2 separate regions of the Homo sapiens genome follow, and region 1 is linked to region 2. Evidence: fine-mapped expression QTL. A gene starts in region 2. The other region holds a variant in brackets. All regions are shown on one strand. Distances are between the middles of the regions.

The links. PIP is the estimated chance that this variant, and not a neighbour inherited with it, causes the effect.
Region 1: its variant is fine-mapped to the expression of TXNIP in whole blood (TOPMed, PIP above 0.99).

Annotation. Positions count from the first base shown.
Region 1 is chr1:145,966,227-145,978,542 of GRCh38, reverse strand. POLR3GL (RNA polymerase III subunit GL) reads right to left here. Exons shown (of 8, transcript NM_032305.3): 2 at 3,552-3,718; 3 at 3,107-3,236; 4 at 1,391-1,459; 5 at 1,004-1,060; 6 at 692-765; 7 at 447-560; 8 at 1-182. The coding sequence starts at 3,677. The coding sequence ends at 96. Among named protein-coding and RNA genes, the nearest start is that of POLR3GL, 7.7 kb to the right of the region's middle. RefSeq lists enhancers at 1-41, 1,022-1,111, 1,972-2,471. The variant C/T (reference allele first, on the strand shown) is at 6,385.
Region 2 is chr1:145,990,947-146,003,262 of GRCh38, reverse strand. It overlaps TXNIP (thioredoxin interacting protein), which reads left to right and starts at 6,684. Exons shown (of 8, transcript NM_006472.6): 1 at 6,684-7,246; 2 at 7,787-7,859; 3 at 7,972-8,119; 4 at 8,232-8,334; 5 at 8,463-8,719; 6 at 8,826-8,982; 7 at 9,096-9,247; 8 at 9,377-10,828. The coding sequence starts at 6,997. The coding sequence ends at 9,412. RefSeq lists a silencer at 826-1,033 and enhancers at 8,605-8,654, 10,476-10,555.

The sequences.
Region 1 (12,316 bases), 25 kb after region 2:
CTCTGACCAAATGATTTGCTTGTCTGAAGAAACAAATAATAGGTACAGTTACTCTCTGTATCCTAAAGAAAGACACGAGGGTCCAGAGTCCTTCTTCAGTATATAGCCTCGTCCATATTGTCATCACTGTCACCACCAAAGTCCTCTCCATTGTCAAAATATGACATGATGTAATCAGTTTCCTGAAATGGAAAAAAAAAAAGTAAAAGTCAATTTGGCATTCACCTTCCTTCCTGTGTACCAGACCCCTTTCCTCTCAGTCACACCATTCCAGGCCTGAGACATCTCTTCCAGCTGTAGTTTGTAGAAGGGGGGCAGATGAAGTAGAGAGAAGCCCCTACCCTGGGGGGCACTATCTCTGTTGGCATGCCAACCCTCTGAGGAGAGCAACCCTAGTATAAAGAGGGTAAAGGGAGGGGGACTAAGGTGGAAGGAGTCCCCTTCACCTCTTCATGTTCTTCTTCATCATACTCTTCTTCTTCCTCCTCTTCCTTCTCTTCTTCTTCTTCTTTCTCCTCATCCTCCTCTGAAGTTACTTCTTCTTCCTTCTTCTCCAGGGTCTCATGTGGGGATGAATAGGAATAGAAACTCAGGTTCAGTTCACAGAAGGGAAAAATTGAGGCACACATGGGCCAAGAGAGAGGGAATGGATCCAGGGCTCAGGAGGTCTCTATGCACACTTCCTCCTCACCTCTAGTTTCTGTATTGTTTCCTCCTTATCTTCTGTGGTCTTAGGGGGCCTCTTGGGGAGCAGAATTGTAATCCCTGGTGGAGGGATCAAAAGGTAAACCTTCAGAGAGCAAATTTTGCCAGCTTTATAGCCCATCCTCATGCAAAGAACATGTCACTCTGCTGCCCTCATGTGGCCACTATGACATCTAGCAACAACACTTGGTAGATTGGGTATAGGAACTGGGATGGAAGGTGAGACCAGCAGCAGCCTCGGCCCTCAGGCTGATGAAGGAAACCTCTCTTCTCCCTCCTTTTTTCCAGATACACTCACGTTCCTTCTGTAGCTTCCGCACTCGGATCTTTAGCTCCCGGGGTAGACGCCGCCAATCTGGGAATAGTGGGAACGTAAATGTCAATAGGACCCTGCCTGGGGTCTCCAGTGAATACTGACTGGTTTTAAAGGGGGGTGAGGGTTTTAAAGGAGAGGAAGGAAGGGGCTGGGCCAAAGTTGTTCAGTGGCTTGGATATCTCCTGAGTAGTGGGAACTATTTAATAGCTTTTTCAGGTAGAATCTGAGAATGTGTTGGACCATAACTAAGGCTCTAGCTTGCAGATGCTGGATCGGGGAATGGGGTGGGGTCATGGGCGTGGTGGGAATAGCTTGAAGCATCCCATGCATTTGAAAGAAGGGCAGTCAATGAAAGGGCCCATCACCTACCAGGGTTCCAATCGATGGCATTGTCAATCGGACCTGACATCTGATATTTGTCTGAATAACGCTCCACATCTGAGGGGTGGAAGGGTCAAAGTTTTATCCCTTCAGAGACCCAGAACAGGACTGTTCCTGAGAGTCCAGCCCTCTCAATACTGAGGAATTATCTGTTTCCTTACCCCAAACCCAGAGCCCAGGGGGTCAGCTTCAGTGAGGACCTTATCTACTTTTTTTTTTTTTTTTTTTGAGACAGAGTCTCGCTCTGTCCCTCAGGCTGGAGTGCAGTGGTACAATCTCAGCTTACTGCAACCTCCACCTCCCAGGTTCAAGCGATTCTCCTGCCTCAGTCTCCTGAGTAGCTGGGACTACAGGCACACACCACCACGCCTAGCTAATTTTTGTATTTTTAGTAGAGACGGGGTTTCACCATGTTGGCCAGGATGGTCTCAATCTCCTGACCTCGTGATCCACCTACCTCGGCCTCCCAAAGTGCTGGGATTACAGGCGTGAATTACTGCGCCCGGCCCCTTATCACTCTTCTAACCTGTTCCTTTTCCACCCAAAATTACGATTTTTTTTTTTCAGACAGAATCTCGCACTGTCGCCTGGGCTGGAGTGCAGTGGCGTGATCTCAGCCCACTGCAACCTCCGCCTCCCAAGTTCAAGCAATTCTTGCCTCAGCCTCCCAAGCAGCTGGGATTAGAGGCATCTGCCACCAGGCCTGGCTAATTTTTTTGTATTTTTTGTAGAGACGGGGTTTCACTATGTTGGCCAAGCTGGTCTTGAACTCCTGACCTCGTGATCTGCCCACCTCAGCCTCCCAAAGTGCTGGGATTCTAGGTGTGAGCCACCACACCTGGCCTTTTTTTTTTGAGACAGAGGTTTGCTGTGTCACCCAGGCTAGAGTGCAGTGGCAAGATCTCAGCTCACTGCAACCTCCACCTCCCAGGTTCAAGCGATTCTCATGCCTCAGCCTCAGCCTCAGCCTCCCGAGTAGCTGAGACCACAGGCACACACCACTGTGCCTGGCTAATTTTTATATTTTTAGTAGAGACAGGGTTTCACCGTATTGGCTAGGCTGGCCTCAAACTCCTGGCCTCAAGTGATCCACCCATGTCAGCCTCCCAAAGTGCTGGCCATTACAGGCGTAAGCCACCGCACCCGGCCATGATGATTTTTTTTTTTTCTGTCCCTTAGTTCAAAGGCATGGCTGTATTAAGAAATAGCGTGGTGCAGTGGAAAGTATGCTAGGGAATAAGAAACCAGGATTTCAGTATTCTCTTGTTGGTTGGTGCTTATAATATCCAGATTGTTAAAAATTTTGCTGGGCGCAGTGGCTCATGCCTGTAATCCCAGCACTTTGGGAGGCCAAGGCAGGAGAATCTCTTGAGCCCAGAAGTTCAAGACCAGCCTGGACAACATAAGGACACCCTATCTCTATTTTACAAAAAAATAAAAAATATATAATTTTTTAGAAAATACATCCCCCTACTTATACACGTGAAATGGGATTTTAATATTTAACCTCCTGCTGTCCCAAGACTATCATGAGACTCAAAACAAACCATGAATACTATAATGCATTTCAGATACAGGGGTAACTATTATGATCTCCCCAGTTAGATAGTATGCTTCCTGTGCCCCTCTGGCCCCCAGTGGTGCTGAGCACAGGGCACTCCCCATGGAAGGCACTCAGAATATGATGCTAGCATTCCAACTGACCTCTCTTGGGGACAGCTGGCCGGATGAAGTAGGGGAGCTGCCTCATGGCTCCTCGTAGCTCTTGCTTCAGTGCCAGGACATATTCCCCTTCCTCGCCTGAGGGCAAAGGTACTGGGCGGAACTCCAAGGGCTAAAGAGGCAGGGGCAGTGGTCAGTTCAGGGAGAAAATGCTAGTACAAATTTAGGAAGACCCCTCCTCCCAATTTAGTCTAACACTCCCACTGAGCAGAGGGCCAAATGACAATCGAGGGAGTAACATATTATTTTGAAAGCTGGGGAGAAGTAAAGGTGGACACTTCTTTGCCTGCAAAACATCCCTGTGCATTGGGAGTATAGAGAGAGGGCCAAAGCGAGGATGGTTTTATGATGGTCCAGGAGGAATTCAGAATCATGTACAGTCAGCCAGGGGCACATGAGAGTCTGGGAAGGGAGTGGAGAGACTCACAGGGAAGAGTGGAGAAGGCTGCAGGGTGGGTGGGGGCAAAGCATCCCCTTTCCCAATGCCCACGGCCTCCACGTTGAAGGTCAACTGGCCCCGGCCACGACCCCGGCCCCCACCCCGGCTGGCCATGGTGGAGGGGGCCTGGGTATTCAGAGATCCAGTGAATAAACCTAATAAAGACAAAAACAAAGAGAAAAAGAAATGTAGTAGAATGGACAGGAAGCCAAGGAGGTACAAGACATTCAATCTTTTATCTCTGGGACATGAAAAGTTAATGTCATTCAACAAATTTTGACTGAGAAGGCACAGTGTCAGAGAGAGAATTTCTGGAAATATAAACATGAATGAGACATGGTCCCCCAAACAGGTCAGATAATTACAATATAGTTTAGCACAAAGGAGAAAGTGCTGACACCTTTGGACAAAACTCTACATCCCTAAGACAATTTGATGTTTATCTCTATCTGCATTTCTTTATTTTTATTTTTAGAGATGCTCTGTCACCCAGGCTTGAGTGCAATGGTGCAATCACAGTTCACTCTAGCCTCGAACCCCTGGGCTCAAGATCCTCCTGCCTCAGCCTCCCAAAGTGCTGGGATTACAGGCATGAACCACTATGCCCAGCCACAAACTGCATTTCTACATATAACCTTTGAATTCTTTCTATCTCTGGCCTTCCAAACCTGACCAGGCCCCAATTCAATCCAATGCAATGCATTCGGCGAAACATTTATTAATCGTCTACCATGAAAAAGATAGTGTGTCAGGCACTGTGGGAGCACAGGGATGAGTCATCAATTTCATTGTAAACCAGGGGAAAAGACACATTACAATCAAATTGATCTTTTTATTTTATTTTATTTGAGATAGGGTCTCTTTCTGTCATCCAGGCTGGAGTGCCGTGGTGTGATCATGGCTCACTGCAGCCTCAACCTCCTGGGCTCAGGTGATCCTCCTGCCTTAGCCTCCCAAGTAGCTGGAGCTACAGGTGTGTGCCACCATGCCTGGCTCTTTTTTTTTTTTTTTTTTTTTTAAGAGACTGGATTTCATTATGTCAAGTGATCCAACTGTCTCAGCCTCCCAAAGTGCTGGGATTACAGGCATGAGCCACCGCGAGAGGCCAAATTGATCTTTTTAAACACCACTTGGAAGCATAGAATCTTAGAATTGGGAGGACCCTTATAGAGGTCATCTAGTCTAAACCCCTCCCAGTGCAGGACTTCACTCTGTAAATTGTTTTGTTGTTGTTTGGTGTATGTGTGTGTCTTCTTTTTTTTTTTCTTGAGACAGAGTCTCACTTTGTTGCCCAGGCTGGAGTGCAGCAGTGCAATCTTGGCTCACTGCAACCTCTGCCTCCCAGGCTCAAGTGATCCTCCTGCCTCAGCTTCCTGAGTAGCTGGGACTACAGGCATGTGCCACCAAGCCTGGCTAATTTTTGTATTTTTTGTAGAGACAGGATTTCGCCATGTCACCCAGGCTGGTCTCGAACTCCTGGACTCAAATGATCCACCTGCTTGGGCTTCCCAAAGTGCTGGGATTACAGGTGTGAGTCACCACCCCTGACCCTACTTTGTGAATTGTTATTCAGCTTTTGGTGGCATTTCCCTAAAGAGATGGTATCCATTCTCCCCCCAAGACAGTATATTCCACTGTGATCAACACTGATGAATCTAAAGTTTCTCCTTCTACCGAATTTTCACTCTGTCTCTTATCATCAATCCTGAGGAACCAGTCAGAGGCAGCTAGGATGGGGGAATAAAATCACCAGATGAAAAGAAAACTTGAGAGAAATGATATCCCAGTAGCAATGAGCACACCTAGCACCCAGATCTTGGTTTCTCATACAATTTTCCAATAAAAGGAACCAGGGCTCTCTGGACTACTAGCTGATTCTAGGACAGGGTAGGAAATATACAACATGAGTCTAGAGCATCTTGAGGTGCCAAAAAGTAAGGAGGTGCTCAAAACAACAACCACACTCACATATTGATGGGTTAGCTGGGTGCAGCGGCTCATTGCTATAATCCCAGCACTTTGAGAGGCTGGAGCGGGCAGATCACTCGAGCCCTAGGAGTTTGAGACCAGTCTGGACAACAGGGCAAAACCTCGTCTTTACAAAAAATACAAAAATTAGCCAGGCATGGTGGCATGCACCCGTGGTCACTGGGTGATCCTTCCCTACTGGGAAGGATTGCTTGAGCCGGGGAGGTTGATGCTGCAATGTTATGATTGCACCACTTGCACTCCAACCTGGGTGGCAGAGTAAAGACTCTGTCTCAAACAAACGAAAAACAAACAAAAAGGAGAAAAAACGAAAAAAATAAACATATTGATGAGGCTATGTCAAAGGGACATAAGAGCCAACTGAAAAAGTTCCCAATGGCCAAAGCTGAAACAATTTGAGGAACAAAATAAATAAAGCAGTATTAGATTATAACCCCAAAGTATAAGATAAATATCTGTGAGTCCATAGTGATATAAATAAATGACTGAATTTATTTATATGGGGGAAAAAAGACAAATCTCTCATGTAGAATTCCAAATAAAATATGTAGACACTCCATCCTAAAAGGGAGCAGGGGAGCATAACTCCCCACTTTTTTTTTTTTTTTTTGAGATGGAGTTTCGCTCTTATTGCCCAGGCTGGAGTACAACGGCACGATCTCGGCTCGCTGCAACCTCCACCTCCCGGGTTCAAGAGATTCTCCTGCCTCAGCCTCCCAAGTAGCTGGGATTACAGGCATGTGCCACCACGCCCGGCTAATTTTGTATTTTTAGTAGAGACGGGGTTTCTCCATGTTGGTCAGGCTGGTCTCAAACTCCCAACCTCAGGTGA[C/T]CCACCCACCTCGGCCTCCCAAAGTGCTGGGATTCAGGCGTGAGCCACCGCACTGGCTATAACTTCCCACTTCTTATGTGTGGACTGTGTATAGGGAATTTCTCTCTCTCTCTCTCTCTATATATATACACACACACACACACACGTATATATATATATATATATATATTTTTTTTTTTTTTTTTTTTTTTTTTGAGACAGAGTCTCACTCTGTCACCCAGGCTGGAGTGCAGTGGCGCAATCTCAGCTCACTGCAACCTCTGCCTCCCGGGTGCAAGCGACTCTCCTGCCTCAGCCTCCTGAATAGCTGGGATTACGGGCGCACGCCACTACGCCCGGCTAATTTTTGTATTTTTAGTAGAGACGGGGTTTCACCATGTTGGTCAGTCTGGTCTTGAACTCCTGATCTCATGATCCGCCTGCCTCGGCCTCCCAAAGTGCTGGGATTACAGGCGTGAGCCACTGCACCCGGCCCTCATTCAATAATTTAGGAAATCAGGAGGAATATCTTTACAGTGGAGAGACCAGAAAAACACTACTTCAACCAGATGACCAAGGTCAGCATCAGTACTCATAAATCATGTTTTCGGTATGTGCCCTTAAAATTACATGATAAAATGGTACTTCACCTCTGTGATCATCCTCCTAAAAACCCATAACCCCACACTAATAAAGAGAAAAATATCAAATTCCAGCAGAAAGGCATCCTACAATATACCCAACTCCTCAAAACTGTCAGTCATCAAAAACAGTAAAGTCTGAGAAACCCGTCACACTTAAGAGGAGCCTAAGGAGACGTGACAACTAAATATAATGTGGAATCCTAAATGGGATTCATGTACAGAAAAAGAGCAATAGGTAAAAACCAAAGAAATGTCAATCAAGTATCAACCTTAGTTAATAATAATGTATCAGTATTCATTCATTAATTGTAACAAATATACGAATCAATTTTTTTTTTTTTTTTTTTTTTGAGATGGAGTTTCGCTCTTGTTGCCCGGCTGGAGTGCAATGGCGCGATCTCGGCTCACTGCAACTTCCGCCTCCCAGGTTCAAGCGATTCTCCTGCCTCAGCCTGCTGAGTACCTGGGATTACAGGCATGCGCCACCACGCCTGGCTAATTTTATACTTTTTTTAGTACAGAGGGGGTTTCTCCATGTTGGTCAGGCTGGTCTCCACCTCCCGACCAGGTGATCCATCCGCCTCGGCCTCCCAAAGTGCTAGATTACAGGCATGAGCCACTGCGCCCGGCATTTTTTTTTTTTTTTTTTTTTTTTTTTTTGAGATGGAGTTTCGCTCTTGTTGCCCGGCTGGAGTGCAATGGCGCGATCTCGGCTCACTGCAACCTCCGCCTCCCGGGTTCAAGCGATTCTCCTGCCTCAGCCTCCCGAGTAGTTGGGATTACAGGAGCCCGCCACCGTGCCCGGCTAATTTGTTTTTGTATTTTTAGTAGAGACGGGGTTTCACCATCTTGGCCAGGTTGGTCTCGAACTCCTGACCTCGTGATCCACCCGCCTCAGCCTCCCAAAGTGCTGGGATTACAGGCGTGAGTCACCGCGGCCGGCCAATCTACAATGTTAATAGGGGAAACTGTGCACTGGGACAAATGGGAACTCTTGGCACTATCTGCTAAATTTTTCCGTAAGTCTTAAATTGTTCTAAAATATATAATCTATTAATTAAAACAAAAACAAAAAACAAAAAAAACTCGAGGCTGGGCGTGGTGGTTCACACCTGTAATCCCAGCACTCTGGGAGGCTGGGGTGGGATGACTACTTAAGTCCAGGAGTTTGAGACCAGCCGGGGCAACATAGTGAGATTCCATCTCTACAAAAAATAAAAAAATTAGCCAGGCATGGTGGCACATGCCAGTAGTCCCAGCTACGTGGGAGACTGAGGTGGAAGGATCGCTTCAGCCCGGGAGATAAGAGGATTCAGTGAGCCATGATCATGTCACTGCACTCACCCTGGGTGACAGAGACCTTGTCTCAAAACAAAAAGCTAAAACAAAAATCAAGTAGCAATTCAAAATTCCCAAGAGATTAGTTGGTGAAAAAAATATTTAAAAATAATATGTAGAAGGTAATCTTCTGTCAGAAATACATACACACATATGAATTAAAAATCTGTTATAGAAGGATATGTACCAAAAATTAACAACGGTTAATTTGAAGGATGAGGGTTTTTTGAATTTTTTCTGGTGGGGAGAGTTGTGTATCTTTTTTTTTTTTTTTTTGAGACAGAGTCTTGCTCTGTCACCCAGGCTGGAGTGGTGCAGTGGTGCAATCTCGGCTCACCGCAGCCTCCACCTTACGGGTTCAAGCAATTCTCCTGCCTCAGCCTCCTGAGTGGCTGGGATTACAGGCACCCACCACCATGCTTAGCTAATTTTTGTATTTTTAGTAGAGAGGGGGTTTTCCCATGTTGGCCAGGCTGGTCTCAAACTCCTGACCTCGTGATCTGCCTGCCTCAGCCTCCCAAAGTGCTGGGATTACAGGCATGAGCCACCATGCCCAGCCAGGTTATGTATGCTTTGTTTTTTTCTATACTGAATAGAATACTATAACAACATTAAAATATTAATTTAAAAATTTTTGGCTGGGCATGGTGGCTCATGCCTGTAATCCCAACACTTTGGGAGGCCGAGGCAGGTGGATCACAAGGTCAAGGGATCGAGAACATCCTGGTCAACATGGCAAAACCCCGTCTCTACTAAAATACAAAAATTAGCTGGGCATGGTGGTGTGCGCCTGTAGTCCCAGCTACTCAGGAAGCTGAGGCAGGAGAATCGCTTGAACCCGGGAGGTGGAGGTTGCAGTGAGCCGAGATGGCGCCACTGCACTCCAGACTGGCAAAAGAGCGAGACTGTGTCTCAAAAAAATTTTTTTTTAATGGGCCAGTTGTGGTGGTTCATGGAGGTAATTTCAGCACTTTGGGAGGCCAGGGCAGAAGGATCACTTGGGCCCAGGCAGTCGAGGCTGCAGTGAGCTATGATCACACCACTGTGCACCAGTCTGGGCAACAGAGTGAGACCGTGTCTCAATAAATAGATAAATAAAATTTAAATGTCGTAACAGAATACTAAATGAGATTAATAATCTGTAGCTAGGAGAGGGTAGAAAAATGTATATCTGAGGAATCTGGGAAGTTTCAAGCCCAACTGCCATAAAAAAAATTGAGGAAACAATGGCTGTTGGTTAAGATATCAAATTGCAATCTGTTTGAAAAGAGCATATTAAGGGAGAGAAGATGTCTCATGGAGACTAGAGAAATAATAAGAATTTGTTGGCTGGGCGTGGTGGCTCATGCTTGTAATCCCAGCACTTTAGGAGGCTGAGGTGGGCGGATCACGAGGTCAGGAGTTCAAGACCAGCCTGACCAACAAAGTGAAACCCCGTCTCTACTAAAAATACAAAAAATTAGCCAGGCGTGGTGGTGCACGCCTGTAATCCCAGCTACTCAGGAGGCCGAGGCAGGAGAATAACTTGAAATCAGGAGGCAGAGGTTGCAGTGAGCCAAGATTGTGCCACTGCACTCCAGCCTGGGCAACAGAGCGAGACTCTGTCTCAAAAAAAAAAAAAAAAGAATTTGTCACCGTGTCTTCAGCCCCTTTTAAGCGAGAGAACATTCTAACCAGCTGGTTAAGTATCTTTCCACTTGACAGATATAGTTCTGGCAGTGGAGATAGGAGCTGCTGTGACTGCAAAGCAATGAAGAGTCAATAAATGGCCATGAGTTTGAGGTTAGACAAATTCCACACCATTTCTACACATTAAATGAGTGATCCTCTAAGAATGCAGGGGAAAAAGAAGACAAAATTTTATTTAATACAGGTTGGGAAATAAACCATCCATCTGCCCCATTCATCTTAGGAATCTATAGGGAGTCTCTGCTATTAAAGATTGTGATGGAGTTAAAATTCTTGAGGATACTTAAGGTCTCCCATAATCTAGTCACAATCTGCTCCTCCTTAACATCAACCTTTCCAGAGAGTTTACCCCTGTACTCTGTTTTACTCCAAACAACACTCATATACACTATGCTCATTCCCAATTATTCATACATATATATTGTGGTGGAAGTTACTGAGAGGCAGGTTTCAACTAAACATACAGAAAAACACTAACAATTACATCAAATTTAAGGAAGGCAGTACATGTAGAGGTTAAGAATATGGTTTTGAATCCCAGTTCAATTTCCTAGCTACAAAACTCTGGTAATTTATTTATTGTCTCTAAACCTGTTTCCTCATCTGTAAAATGGGAATAAAAATAACAATAATAGAATCATTTCACTCAACAAATATTTACTGAGTGCTTACTAGGTGTGCCAGGCACTGTTCTAGATTCTATGGATATAGCAGTGTGCAAAACAGACAAAAACATGCTGCACCCACGGGGTTTAAATGGAGCTTTCATTCCAGTGGAGGCATCAGCAAACAAACAATACTTCAAGCCATGAGACTAGGTGAGACCCCTAAAGGAGTGGATGTGGACAGAGAAAATAAGAAATCCAGGCACTGAGGCCTGGGGCACGCTGATGTGTAGAATTTGCTATACATGTAATAAATAAAGCAAGAAATTAACACCCTTAAAATCTTGGAAATCCAAATTTTAAAAAATCATCTCAATAGAAAAAATGGGCAAAGGACATGAACAGGCAACTGGCAAAGAGAATGGCCATGTCTGGACATGGTGGCTCACTCCTGTAATCCAGGGTTTTGGGAGGCCGAGGTGGACAGATCACTTGAGGCCAGGAGTTCATGACCAGCCTGGGCAACATAGAGAAACCCTGTCTCTACTAAAAATACAAAAAATTAGCCAGGCACAGTGGTACACACCTTTAATTCCAGCTACTCAGGAGGCTGAGGCATGAGACTCACTTGAACACAGGAGGTGGAGGTTGCAGTGAGCTGAGATCTCACCACTGCACTCCAGCTTGGGCAACAGAGCAAGACTGTCTCAAAAAAAAAAAAAAGGAGAGAGAATGGCCAATAAAACCACTCTTCACCTATGAAAGTGACAAAGATTTAAATAATAAGCAGGCTGTCATGAGTTTTTTTTCAAATGGACACTCTCATACCTCACTGGAAAGACTATAAACATAATATTTCAAGGGGAGCAATTTGTCCAGTTAAATCAACAGCCTTTGAAATGTTTATATCCCTAATCCAGCAATCCCACTTTAAAAATATATTCCAAAGACATCAACAGATATACAGTCACAGATATAAGTAAAAGGATATTCATCAAAGAGCTATTTATGGTAGCAAAAATTCTGAAATAACTGAAACAATCTAACAATAAATGAATGGTTAAAAAATACCCATTTTATTTATTTATGTTCTTTTTATTTTATTATTTTTTTTTTGAGACAGTTTCACTCTTGTCGTCCAGGCTGGAGTGCAATGGCGCAATCTCAGCTCACCGCAACCTCCACCTCCTGGGTTCAAGTGATTCTCCTGCCTCAGCCCCCCGAGTAACTGGGATTACAGGCATGCGCCACCATGCCTGGCTAATTTTTTTTGTAGTTTTAGTAGAGATGGGGTTTCTCCATGTTGGTCAGGCTGGTCTTGTACTCCTGACTTCGTGATCCACCCGCCTTGGCCTCACAAAGTGCTGGGATTACAGGCATGAGCCATCACGCCCGGCCTCTTTTTTTTTTTTTTTTTTTTGAGACAGGTTCTTGCTCTGTCGCTTAGGCTGAAGTGCAGTGCAGTGGCAATTTTGGCTCACTGCAGCCTCGACTTCTCCAGCTCAAGCAACCCTCCACCTCAGCCTCCTGAGCAGCTGGAACTACAGGCCTGAGACACCATGCTTGGCTATTTTTTTTGTAGTTTTTGTAGAGACAGGGTTTTGTCATGTTGCCTAGACTGGTCTTGAACTCCTGGGCTAAAGTGATCTGCCTACCTCAGCCTCCCAAAGTGCTGGA
Region 2 (12,316 bases):
AAGGGAAATAAGATATTTTTATCACATATAAAGGCAACTTTAAGAACTATGGCCCAGCACAGTGGCTCACGCCTGTAATCCCAGCACTTTGGGAGGCCAAGGTGGGTGGATCACTTGAGGTCAGGCGTTCAAGACCAGCCTGGCCAATGCCTGTAATCCCAACTACTCTGGAGGCAGAGGAGAATCGTTTGAACCTGGGAGGCAGAGGTTGCAGTGAGCCAAGATCGTGCCATTGCACTCCAGCCTGAGTGAGACTCTATATAAAAAATAAATAGATAAAGCTGGGCATGGTGGCTCAAACCTGTAATCCCAGCATTTTGGGAGGCCAAGGCAGGTGGATCACCTGAGGTCAGAAGTTCAAGACCAGCCTGGCCAAAAAGGTGAAACCCCACCTCTACTAAAAATACAAAAAATTAGCTGGGCATGGTGGTGGGTGCCTATAATCCCAGCTACTAGGGAGGCTGAGACAGGTGAATCACTTGAACCTGGGAGGTGGAGGTTGCAGCGAGCCGAGATCACGCCACCGCACTCCAGCCTGGGTGACAGAGTAAGACCTTGTCTCAAAAGTAAATAGATAAGTAAATAAAGCTAATTACAAAAAAAAGAAAAGAAAAAGAACTACCTTTAGGAAGTTATTGTAAGGGCCTTCAGAAAAGAAAAAAAACTTTTTTAGGTTTTTTTTTTGTAGACGGAGTTTTGCTCTTGTTGCCCAGGCTGGAGTGCAATCTTGACTCACTGCAACCTCCACCTCCCAGGTTCAAGCTATTCTCTTGCCTCAGCCTCCTGAGTAACTGGGATTACAGGCATGCGCCACCACACCTGGCTAATTTTGTATTATTAGTAGAGACGGGGTTACTCCTTGTTGGTCAGGCTGGTCTCAAACTCCTGACCTCAGTTGATCTGCCTGCCTCGACCTCCCAAAATGCTGGGATTACAGGCGTGAGCCACCACGCCCAGCCAAAAAGAACTATCTTAAATGAGCCTACAATACCTCCAAACAAGTTAATTCAGCCCCTCTCCCCATCTTGCCATGACATTGGACAATACTGAGATCTCTATCCTTTGCTTATCATGGTAGAAAAATTGATCTCAGTAAACACGAAATGTGGGCCTCCAGATGAGATATTTTTAAAAGTTAAAACTAAATTAACAAACAAGATTGGACATGGTGGCTCATATCTATAATTCCAGCACTTTGGGAGGCCAAGGTGGGTGGATAGCTTGAGCCCAGGTGTTCCAGACCAGCCCAGGCAACATGGCAAGACTCCATCTCTACCAAAATATATGAAAATTAGCCCGGCATGTGCCTGTAGTCCCAGCTGACTCAAGAGGCCAAGGTGGAAGGATCACCTCAGCCCTGGAGGTTGAGGTTACAGTGAGACATGGTCATGTCACTGCACTCCAGCCTGGTGATGAAGTAAGACCCTTTCTCAAAAAAAAAAATTAGCTGAGTATGGTGTGTGTTCCTAGTAGTTCCCGCTACTGAGCTATGCTTGTGCCACTGTACTCCAGTCTGGGCAACAACAAAATAAACAAATAGATAATAAAGAGAATCCTGGGTTTGGAGAGTGGCTCCACCAGATACTAGCTTATGTCCCAGGTCAAGTCACTTAACCAAAATAAGAACTGGTTTTAAAAAAATAAAAGACTGCTACAGTCCCATTTAACTCTAAAATTCTCTGAGTCTTGCCCTGAATCCTTTATTAGACTATTGTGAGAATCAAACAAGATACTGTGTATCAAAGCACTGAGAGCCAAGACAACACATTTTTATAGTACATACTTTTAGACAGACATGGGCGGGTTCAAGATCTTGCTCTACTTACAAAATCTGTGACCTCAGGCAAATTACTTCACTTCTGAGCCTGACTGAACCAACACCGAGTCACAAGGTTATTGAGAGAATTAAATGAAACAATCTAACCTCAAATACTTTCTTTTTTTTTTTTTTTGAGACGGAGTCTCGCTCTGTCGCCCAGGCGGGAGTGCAGTGGCGCAATCTCGGCTCACTGCAAACTCCGCCTCCCGGGTTCACGCCATTCTCCTGCCTCAGCCTCCCGAGTAACTGGAACTACAGGCGCCCACCATCACGCCCGGCTAATTTTTTTTGTATTTTTAGTAGAGACGGGGTTTCACCGTGTTAGCCAGGATGGTCTCGATCTCCTGACCTCGTGATCCGCCCGCCTCGGCCTCCCAAAGTGCTGGGATTACAAGCGTGAGCCACCGCGCCCGGCCAACCTCAAATACTTTCTAGAACAACATGACAGATGACAGATAATTATCACTGACATAATTATATAAAAGACTTGGTTCATTATAGGTGCTCAATAAATGGCAATTACTTAAAAAGTCACTTGGAACTCTAACATGCTATACAATTCTTTTTTTTTTTTTGAGATGGAGTCTCACTTTGTCGCCCAGGCTGGAGTGCAGTGGCGAGATCTCGGCTCACTGCAAGCTCCACCTCCCAGGTTCACGCCATTCTCCTGCCTCAGCCTCCCGAGTAGCTGGGACTATAGGCGCCTGCCACCACACCCGGCTAATTTTTTGTATTTTTAGTAGAGACGGGGTTTCACTGTGTTAGCCAGGATGGTCTCAATCTCCTGACCTCGTGATTTGCCTGCCTCAGCCTCCCAAAGTGCTGGGATTACAGGCGTGAGCCACCGCGCCCAGCCTTTTTTTTTTTTTTTAAAGAGAGATGGGGTCTCACTACAATGCCCAGGGTGATCTTCTTGAATTCCTGGCCTCAAGTGATCTTCCCATTTCAGCCTCCCAAAGTGCTGGGATTACAGGCATGAGCCACCACACCTGGCTTACAATTGTTAATTTATTCTTATTGATCTATGACTTGGGGCAGTCTTCAAACTCTTAATTTGCCTCTAAATTCCTTAGGGAAAAAATTGAAAGGGAAAAGGGTGCCTATAATCCCAGCACTTTGGGAGGCCGAGGTAGGCGGACTGCTTGAGCAGGAGTTTGAGACCAGCCTGGCCAACATGGTGAAACCCCATCTCTACCAAAAATACAAAAATTACCTAGGCGTGGTGGAGCACATCTGTAGTCCCAGCTACTCGGGAGGCTGAGGTGGGAGAATCACTTGAGCCTGGGATGCGGAGGTTTCAGTGAGCCAAGTGACACTGCATTCCAACCTGGTTGAGAGTGAGACCCTATGTGGAAAAAAAAAGAGAGAGAGAAAGGAAAATGGGTAAGGGTAAAAGGGAAGTTTACAGAGTAGAGGTGAGAGAAGTGATTAAAAGGACCAAGAAAGGGCTTTGTTCTGCATTAAGAACTATGAGTCTTCATGTTCTAAATGTTTGTCAGGCCAGAGGTTAAAGAAAAGAGAAATGCAATCAGTGTCTTGTCTCTGACTGGCAACAAAGTGCTGAGGGCACTTCCCTCCCTGAAACTGCTGGCTTTATTCTGTCACCTGCAGTAAAGCAAACAAACAACAATCACCACTTGGTTTCCTGTTGGCACTGGGACTGAAGAGGGTAGAGAAGGGGCAGATAAAGATGATCCAACTTGCAAAACTCTTTGACTGTGCCCTACTTTGCTGTTCCTCCTTGGCCCACCCCTTTTCCCAAACCTCACAAGTGTTTTTATACCCTGATTTTAGGACAAGAGTTTACAAAATTTCTTTCTTCTTAGACCCAAGAACTGGGAAAGGAGAATCGGGGCAGGTTTTTATCAGAATACCAGGTTACAAGGTGAAAGGTCGTAAACAACCGTGTCCAGGAGGACTCCACTTCAGAACATGCCTTGGCTACAGGCCTGGTAGGCAGCAGCTGCTGCCAAAGCTAAATAATTTTTTGGCATTTAAAGGAACCCAGGCATAACACAGAGCAACGTAGTCTGTAGTGAGCTCTGCAAATGGGAAGATACAAGGAAACCAGAGCCCAGAAGAGAAACTTAGAACGAGAGAATTGTCATAGGATTTTTTAAAACTCAGCAATTCAGTACTTCAGAGATGTGCCCACATAAATATCAAATAAATTGAAAGGGAAAAGGGTGCCTATAATCCCAGCACTTTGGGAGGCCAGGTAGGCGGACTGCTTGAGCAGGAGTTTGAGACCAGCCTGGCCAACATGGTGAAACCCCATCTCTACCAAAAATACAAAAATTACCTAGGCGTGGTGGAGCACATCTGTAGTCCCGGCTACTCGGGAGGCTGAGGTGGGAGAATCACTTGAGCCTGGGATGTGGAGGTTTCAGTGAGCCAAGTGACACTGCATTCCAACCTGGTTGAGAGTTGGATGTCTTAAGATGTCCCATATTACCACCACCCTGATCCATCACTAGCCACCATCTTTCCTATTCCCTCAAAATGTATGTAGTTAAGATTTAACAATATTTAACAATATTGACTATGTAGTTAACAATATTGATTCATATATTTGTCAGCATTTTGATGTTTGATAGTTACACTTTCATACCCATCAAACTAAACGTTCTCCCAGAAGCCACAATTTTGAACTTTTAAAATTACTTCAGTCAGGCCAGGCACGGTGGCTCACGCCTGTAATCCCAGCACTTTGGGAGGCCAAGGCGGGTGGATCACCTGAGGTCAGGAGGAGTTCAAGACCATCTTGGGCAACATGGTGAAACCCCATCTCTACTAAAAATACAAAAATTAGCTGGGCGTGGTGATGCATGCCTGTAATGCCAGGTACTCAGGAGGCTGAGGCGGAGAATCGCTCTAACCCAGGAGGCAGAGGTTGCAGTGAGCTGGGGTCAGGCCACTGCACTCCAGCCTAGGCAACAGAGCAAGATTCCACCTTAAAAAAAAAATTACTTCAGTCAGAGTTCCACCTCCTCTGCTCCCAGTAACTCAATCAATATTGTTAACCAACTGAAAACACCTCAAGCCTAGCTGGTTAAGTTTCTAGAACAGGGTGCCGCCTCAAACACACCCTAAGGATCAACATGTTCCTGGGGTTTAATGCATGTGTGTGTTTTCGAAGAGACTCATGATGCCTATTCTTGAGCTTGCTTAATATTGGGGTTGAGTTGTAACTCTCGTTAGCCTTAGAGTGTCAATCCAGCTAGGCTGTCTGAGGAAGGAAGAAGGCTCTTTAACAGCAATGAATATTGTTTTTTTTTTGCTGATTGGGTAGGGTTTCAATATACTTGAATGCTTCTTAATTACCTCCCCATCTCAATCTTGGGACATTATCTTCCTCTTTCCAGCACAAGGAATTAAATAATAATCTTCTGATACCCCAGCACAGATATAGGAAGGGTCTATGAATCAAATAAAAGGAGGAAGAATCCCTGCACTTTTGCATACAGGTTTTTCCTATTACATTTAAGAGTAAGTTCTCAGTACTCAGCTCCTAAAGCATCTCACAGCCAGCAGGGGAAAATCCATCTGACAGCTGGCCAAACGAAACCAACAAAGAATGAAGAGAGAGGGTAGGGTCTCTTCTGGCTTGAATTTATAGTGCTCTGTTGACCGATCTTTCTTCTCTTTTCCTTCTTACTGTTTTCTAAACCGTTTAGGGAAAAACCTTTGAAAATAGTTTTTAAAATTGTTCCTTCAAACAGGTGTGTGGCCATCTCTCCACTGAAAATTTGGATATAAACAAGAGGACTTTCTCACTTTTAACCAGATTTATGGATGTACATTTGATTTAGTGAGTTGGAAGAGGGGATGGAGACAAGAAAGAGTGAACATAACTGGAAAAAAGTGAAAAGAGTGAAGCATCCTTTTTTTCCCGCTTTTCCTTTTCCTCCAGAAGCAGGTAGGAAGTGGGAGATAATGAGCGCCTGGACACACCTCACTAAAGAGGTAATGAGGTAAATGGGGAACACAGACAAAGTGTTCCCCAACTTTGCAGGTAGAAATTGAAGAGATGACAGGATAAGCAACAGGATGTAAACACGCCCCTCCTATTTCCGTTCCACAGAACAGAGAGAACAGAAGAGAGGGTACAAGCTGGGGGTGGGTGACGAACAGCACAGGCACGCAGCCCCCAGCCCTAGCCCCAAGGGATTGGAACGGGAAGGAGAAGACATCGGTCCTACACACACAATGAGGCCTGAAAGTTCTCCTTTCCCTCAGAGACGGTGGTGTTTTTTATACTTAATAGGGATGCGGGGCAAGAGAAGGACAAAGGGCTGTTCCTGAACAGTAACACCAAGCATTCTGCGCTCCACAGCCCCAAACCTGAAAGTATTCTTGGAGCTATGGGATTTTCACACACTTGCTATTTATGAGCCAGGAATAACGACAGGCTCTAAAGTAACTGCACTGGCTAAGACTAGGCATGAAATTCCCTCATAAGCACATTTTCCTTTTACCTCAAAACACCGCTCTCAGACCAGAAACGTCCACACCCGCCCTCCGATGGCCTGTCGCCCTGGCTAGGTTTTAGGGTCAGTGGGATCCTCCTTCCACTGGACCCGGGAGAAGACGCTCAACAGCCCCCTCCTTCCCCTCCTTCCTCTCCTTCCTCTCCTTCCCCCCTCCCTGCGCCGCTCCAGAGCGCAACAACCATTTTCCCAGCCAGGAGCACACCGTGTCCACGCGCCACAGCGATCTCACTGATTGGTCGGGCTCCTGGTAAACAAGGACCGGGCAGCCAATGGGAGGGATGTGCACGAGGGCAGCACGAGCCTCCGGGCCAGCGCTCGCGTGGCTCTTCTGGCCCGGGCTACTATATAGAGACGTTTCCGCCTCCTGCTTGAAACTAACCCCTCTTTTTCTCCAAAGGAGTGCTTGTGGAGATCGGATCTTTTCTCCAGCAATTGGGGGAAAGAAGGCTTTTTCTCTGAATTAGCTTAGTGTAACCAGCGGCGTATATTTTTTAGGCGCCTTTTCGAAAACCTAGTAGTTAATATTCATTTGTTTAAATCTTATTTTATTTTTAAGCTCAAACTGCTTAAGAATACCTTAATTCCTTAAAGTGAAATAATTTTTTGCAAAGGGGTTTCCTCGATTTGGAGCTTTTTTTTTCTTCCACCGTCATTTCTAACTCTTAAAACCAACTCAGTTCCATCATGGTGATGTTCAAGAAGATCAAGTCTTTTGAGGTGGTCTTTAACGACCCTGAAAAGGTGTACGGCAGTGGCGAGAAGGTGGCTGGCCGGGTGATAGTGGAGGTGTGTGAAGTTACTCGTGTCAAAGCCGTTAGGATCCTGGCTTGCGGAGTGGCTAAAGTGCTTTGGATGCAGGGATCCCAGCAGTGCAAACAGACTTCGGAGTACCTGCGCTATGAAGACACGCTTCTTCTGGAAGACCAGCCAACAGGTAAGCGGCCCAATTCATTGTTGGAGGGTGAAAGCTGATTAGAGAAGAGAATTGAATACACAAAACCTGTACGAAATGTTTTAAGTTGCTCAGTTTGAGTGGTTTGAATTACGTGTTGTTGCTTCCTTTTTTCTGTTTTAATTTGCAGACATTCTCCTCCCCCCCCAAAAAAAAGGGTGATTTGTACAATTTTTTATGGTGCTGTGTCCTAAAGGGGATCCTGAGGGGCGTTGCCTCGGGTAGTTAAAGTCTTATGTGTGCATAAGTTGCTTATTCTTTGTCTACTTCCTATTTGAGATGTTAGTAGAGAACTGTCCTGGGTGAATCTTTCAGTATTGCAGGGCTTGGCAACTTGCTGCCCGACAAAATACATCAGAATTTCTCTTTAAGAACAATATGGGATGGATTAAAAAATATATATATGGGATGAAATTGGGGGTACTTCAATACCTTGCATGCCACCCAAGCATTCCTTATCACACAGATGCATTTTAAGTGTAACAGCAAGCCTAATGGCTACTCGATTTTCTTTCCCTTCAGGTGAGAATGAGATGGTGATCATGAGACCTGGAAACAAATATGAGTACAAGTTCGGCTTTGAGCTTCCTCAGGGGTAAATATCAGCTAAATGCATCTTTGAACTTTTCTGTCTAAAATATCTTGCCCTCCTTTGATCACTTACTGTTCTTGGAGAGCGTTTTAAAATTTTCATTTTCTTGACACAGGCCTCTGGGAACATCCTTCAAAGGAAAATATGGGTGTGTAGACTACTGGGTGAAGGCTTTTCTTGACCGCCCGAGCCAGCCAACTCAAGAGACAAAGAAAAACTTTGAAGTAGTGGATCTGGTGGATGTCAATACCCCTGATTTAATGGTGAGATCCATTTTAAAGATTCTATTCTCCTGGGTCATGAGGATGATAAATCAGACGTCTTGGGCATTAGATTGAAGCATCTCAAAACACCTTTTTATCCCCTTCTATATAGGCACCTGTGTCTGCTAAAAAAGAAAAGAAAGTTTCCTGCATGTTCATTCCTGATGGGCGGGTGTCTGTCTCTGCTCGAATTGACAGAAAAGGATTCTGTGAAGGTAAAATCCTAGTGCTTATGGCAGTTAAAACAGGAACTGGGTTTAGGGGCAAGGGCATGGGACTGGGGTAGAGGAAGTGTCATTAACTATACTGAGTATCAGTAAGTTTTCATCTTTCTCATTGCTAGGTGATGAGATTTCCATCCATGCTGACTTTGAGAATACATGTTCCCGAATTGTGGTCCCCAAAGCTGCCATTGTGGCCCGCCACACTTACCTTGCCAATGGCCAGACCAAGGTGCTGACTCAGAAGTTGTCATCAGTCAGAGGCAATCATATTATCTCAGGGACATGCGCATCATGGCGTGGCAAGAGCCTTCGGGTTCAGAAGATCAGGCCTTCTATCCTGGGCTGCAACATCCTTCGAGTTGAATATTCCTTACTGGTGGGTAGATGCAGGGTGGCTTCAGCAGAGAAATTGTTCATCTGTTACCACAGCTGTCTTGTTTCTCCAGACCTCTGGTGTAATAAACTGCCATCTTCCTTTCTAGATCTATGTTAGCGTTCCTGGATCCAAGAAGGTCATCCTTGACCTGCCCCTGGTAATTGGCAGCAGATCAGGTCTAAGCAGCAGAACATCCAGCATGGCCAGCCGAACCAGCTCTGAGATGAGTTGGGTAGATCTGAACATCCCTGATACCCCAGAAGGTGAGCCAGACCTAATGTCTTTTCTTTGTTTCTGGTCTACCTGGGTTTGTAAAATTGTGATGGTCCAGCATTTCTTGGGCAGGATTCTTATGTGGCCATATTTTCTTTTCTAGCTCCTCCCTGCTATATGGATGTCATTCCTGAAGATCACCGATTGGAGAGCCCAACCACTCCTCTGCTAGATGACATGGATGGCTCTCAAGACAGCCCTATCTTTATGTATGCCCCTGAGTTCAAGTTCATGCCACCACCGACTTATACTGAGGTGAGGATTGTCATCTTTACTGTTAAATTTGTCCTAAGCTTTCTATAAGAAGTTGACTTAGACGGATTGCTAAACTGGTTTGTTCTTTTTGTTCTTACCTGAACTGAAATAGTCTGTTTCTTTCTTTAGGTGGATCCCTGCATCCTCAACAACAATGTGCAGTGAGCATGTGGAAGAAAAGAAGCAGCTTTACCTACTTGTTTCTTTTTGTCTCTCTTCCTGGACACTCACTTTTTCAGAGACTCAACAGTCTCTGCAATGGAGTGTGGGTCCACCTTAGCCTCTGACTTCCTAATGTAGGAGGTGGTCAGCAGGCAATCTCCTGGGCCTTAAAGGATGCGGACTCATCCTCAGCCAGCGCCCATGTTGTGATACAGGGGTGTTTGTTGGATGGGTTTAAAAATAACTAGAAAAACTCAGGCCCATCCATTTTCTCAGATCTCCTTGAAAATTGAGGCCTTTTCGATAGTTTCGGGTCAGGTAAAAATGGCCTCCTGGCGTAAGCTTTTCAAGGTTTTTTGGAGGCTTTTTGTAAATTGTGATAGGAACTTTGGACCTTGAACTTACGTATCATGTGGAGAAGAGCCAATTTAACAAACTAGGAAGATGAAAAGGGAAATTGTGGCCAAAACTTTGGGAAAAGGAGGTTCTTAAAATCAGTGTTTCCCCTTTGTGCACTTGTAGAAAAAAAAGAAAAACCTTCTAGAGCTGATTTGATGGACAATGGAGAGAGCTTTCCCTGTGATTATAAAAAAGGAAGCTAGCTGCTCTACGGTCATCTTTGCTTAGAGTATACTTTAACCTGGCTTTTAAAGCAGTAGTAACTGCCCCACCAAAGGTCTTAAAAGCCATTTTTGGAGCCTATTGCACTGTGTTCTCCTACTGCAAATATTTTCATATGGGAGGATGGTTTTCTCTTCATGTAAGTCCTTGGAATTGATTCTAAGGTGATGTTCTTAGCACTTTAATTCCTGTCAAATTTTTTGTTCTCCCCTTCTGCCATCTTAAATGTAAGCTGAAACTGGTCTACTGTGTCTCTAGGGTTAAGCCAAAAGACAAAAAAAATTTTACTACTTTTGAGATTGCCCCAATGTACAGAATTATATAATTCTAACGCTTAAATCATGTGAAAGGGTTGCTGCTGTCAGCCTTGCCCACTGTGACTTCAAACCCAAGGAGGAACTCTTGATCAAGATGCCCAACCCTGTGATCAGAACCTCCAAATACTGCCATGAGAAACTAGAGGGCAGGTCTTCATAAAAGCCCTTTGAACCCCCTTCCTGCCCTGTGTTAGGAGATAGGGATATTGGCCCCTCACTGCAGCTGCCAGCACTTGGTCAGTCACTCTCAGCCATAGCACTTTGTTCACTGTCCTGTGTCAGAGCACTGAGCTCCACCCTTTTCTGAGAGTTATTACAGCCAGAAAGTGTGGGCTGAAGATGGTTGGTTTCATGTTTTTGTATTATGTATCTTTTTGTATGGTAAAGACTATATTTTGTACTTAACCAGATATATTTTTACCCCAGATGGGGATATTCTTTGTAAAAAATGAAAATAAAGTTTTTTTAATGGAAAAAAAAATGTCTGTGAGATGGCTTTGGAAAAGTTTTTGGAAAGAAGGTGTGTCTAAAGGAGTTTTCCTCTACTTAACAATCCACACTAATGAAAACCTTGTGGAGAAAACACTCCCTATGGACCCTAAGGAATGTCGGCAGAGTGGGGGCTAGAAGGTGAAGAGGGAAACCGTTTGAGGCATGTTTCAGATTCACTGAACAACTATACTGGGATTTTCCGGTTGTCTAAACTAGTTTTCCAAATCCATAGGTAATCATTACTAAATTCCTTCAGTTTTGGAGTTCATGGGTTCTTGAAATACAGGGAGATGATGTTTATGAGGGCATTTGAAAGAAAAGAGTGGCGGTTCCTTTTTTTGAGACAGTCTCACTCACCCAGGCTGGAGTGTAGTATGATCTTAGCTCACTGCAGCCTTGATTTCCTGGGCTCAAGTGATCTTCCCATCTCCGCCTCCCACATAGCTGGGCTACAGGCATACACAACTACGTTCAGTTAATTGTGTGTGCGTGTGTGTGTGTGTATGTGTTTGTTTTTTCTACGCTCAGCTAATTTTTTGATTATTTGTAGAGTTCGGGTTTTGCCATGTTGTCCAGGTTGGCCTCAAACTTCTGGGCTCAAGTGATCTGCTGGCCCTGGCCTCCCAAAGAGTTGGGAATACAGGCGTGAGACACCACACTCAGCTGAAGATCCCCTTTTTACAATATGGTTTTATCATAGGGTTTCTTCCCAATGTAAACTTGATTTATATACTAACAAGGATAACTTCAGGACTTAAGAGGTTATAGAGTTATGAGTATTAAATTCTTTGGAGGCAGCTAACCATTTTTTATTTTCACAGTTCCTAACCAAGCACATAACTCAGTAAATGTTTGCTAACTATTCAACTTCACCCTCATCCCTTAGATGATTTGATGGTTCCTATTCCTTGTAGGGTAATAGTAGTAGAGTAATACCACAATCCCATGTTTAATTGGTGTGATTTTCTTTCTTTCTTTCTTTCTTTCTTTTTTTTGAGATAGAGTCTTGCTCTGTCTCCCAGGCTAGAGTGCAGTGGCCCAATCTTGGCTTAATACAATGTCCGCCTCCCAGGTTCAAGCGATTCTGCTACCTCAGACTCTTGAGTAGTTGGGATTACAGGCATGAGCCACCACACTCAGCTAATTTTTGTATTTTTAGTAGAGACGGGGTTTCACCATGTTGGCCAGGCTGGTCTCGAACTCCTGACTTCCCGTGATTCACCCGCCTCAGCCTCCTAAAGTGCTGGGATTACAGGTGTGAGCCATGGCGCCCAGCAGTGATTTTCATTCCTAAAGAACCGACAGGTGGAGAAACCCTGGGATGGCCAATTTAAATATTTGCACAGATCTGGTCCTGGTCCTTATTTGGGAATTGATTTTTCTGAGGACTTCCACAAACTAATTCCAAATAACAGGCTCCTGGAAATTCTACATGAAATCAGTGTGGGGTGTTGTAGCTCTAGCTACTCACAAGGCT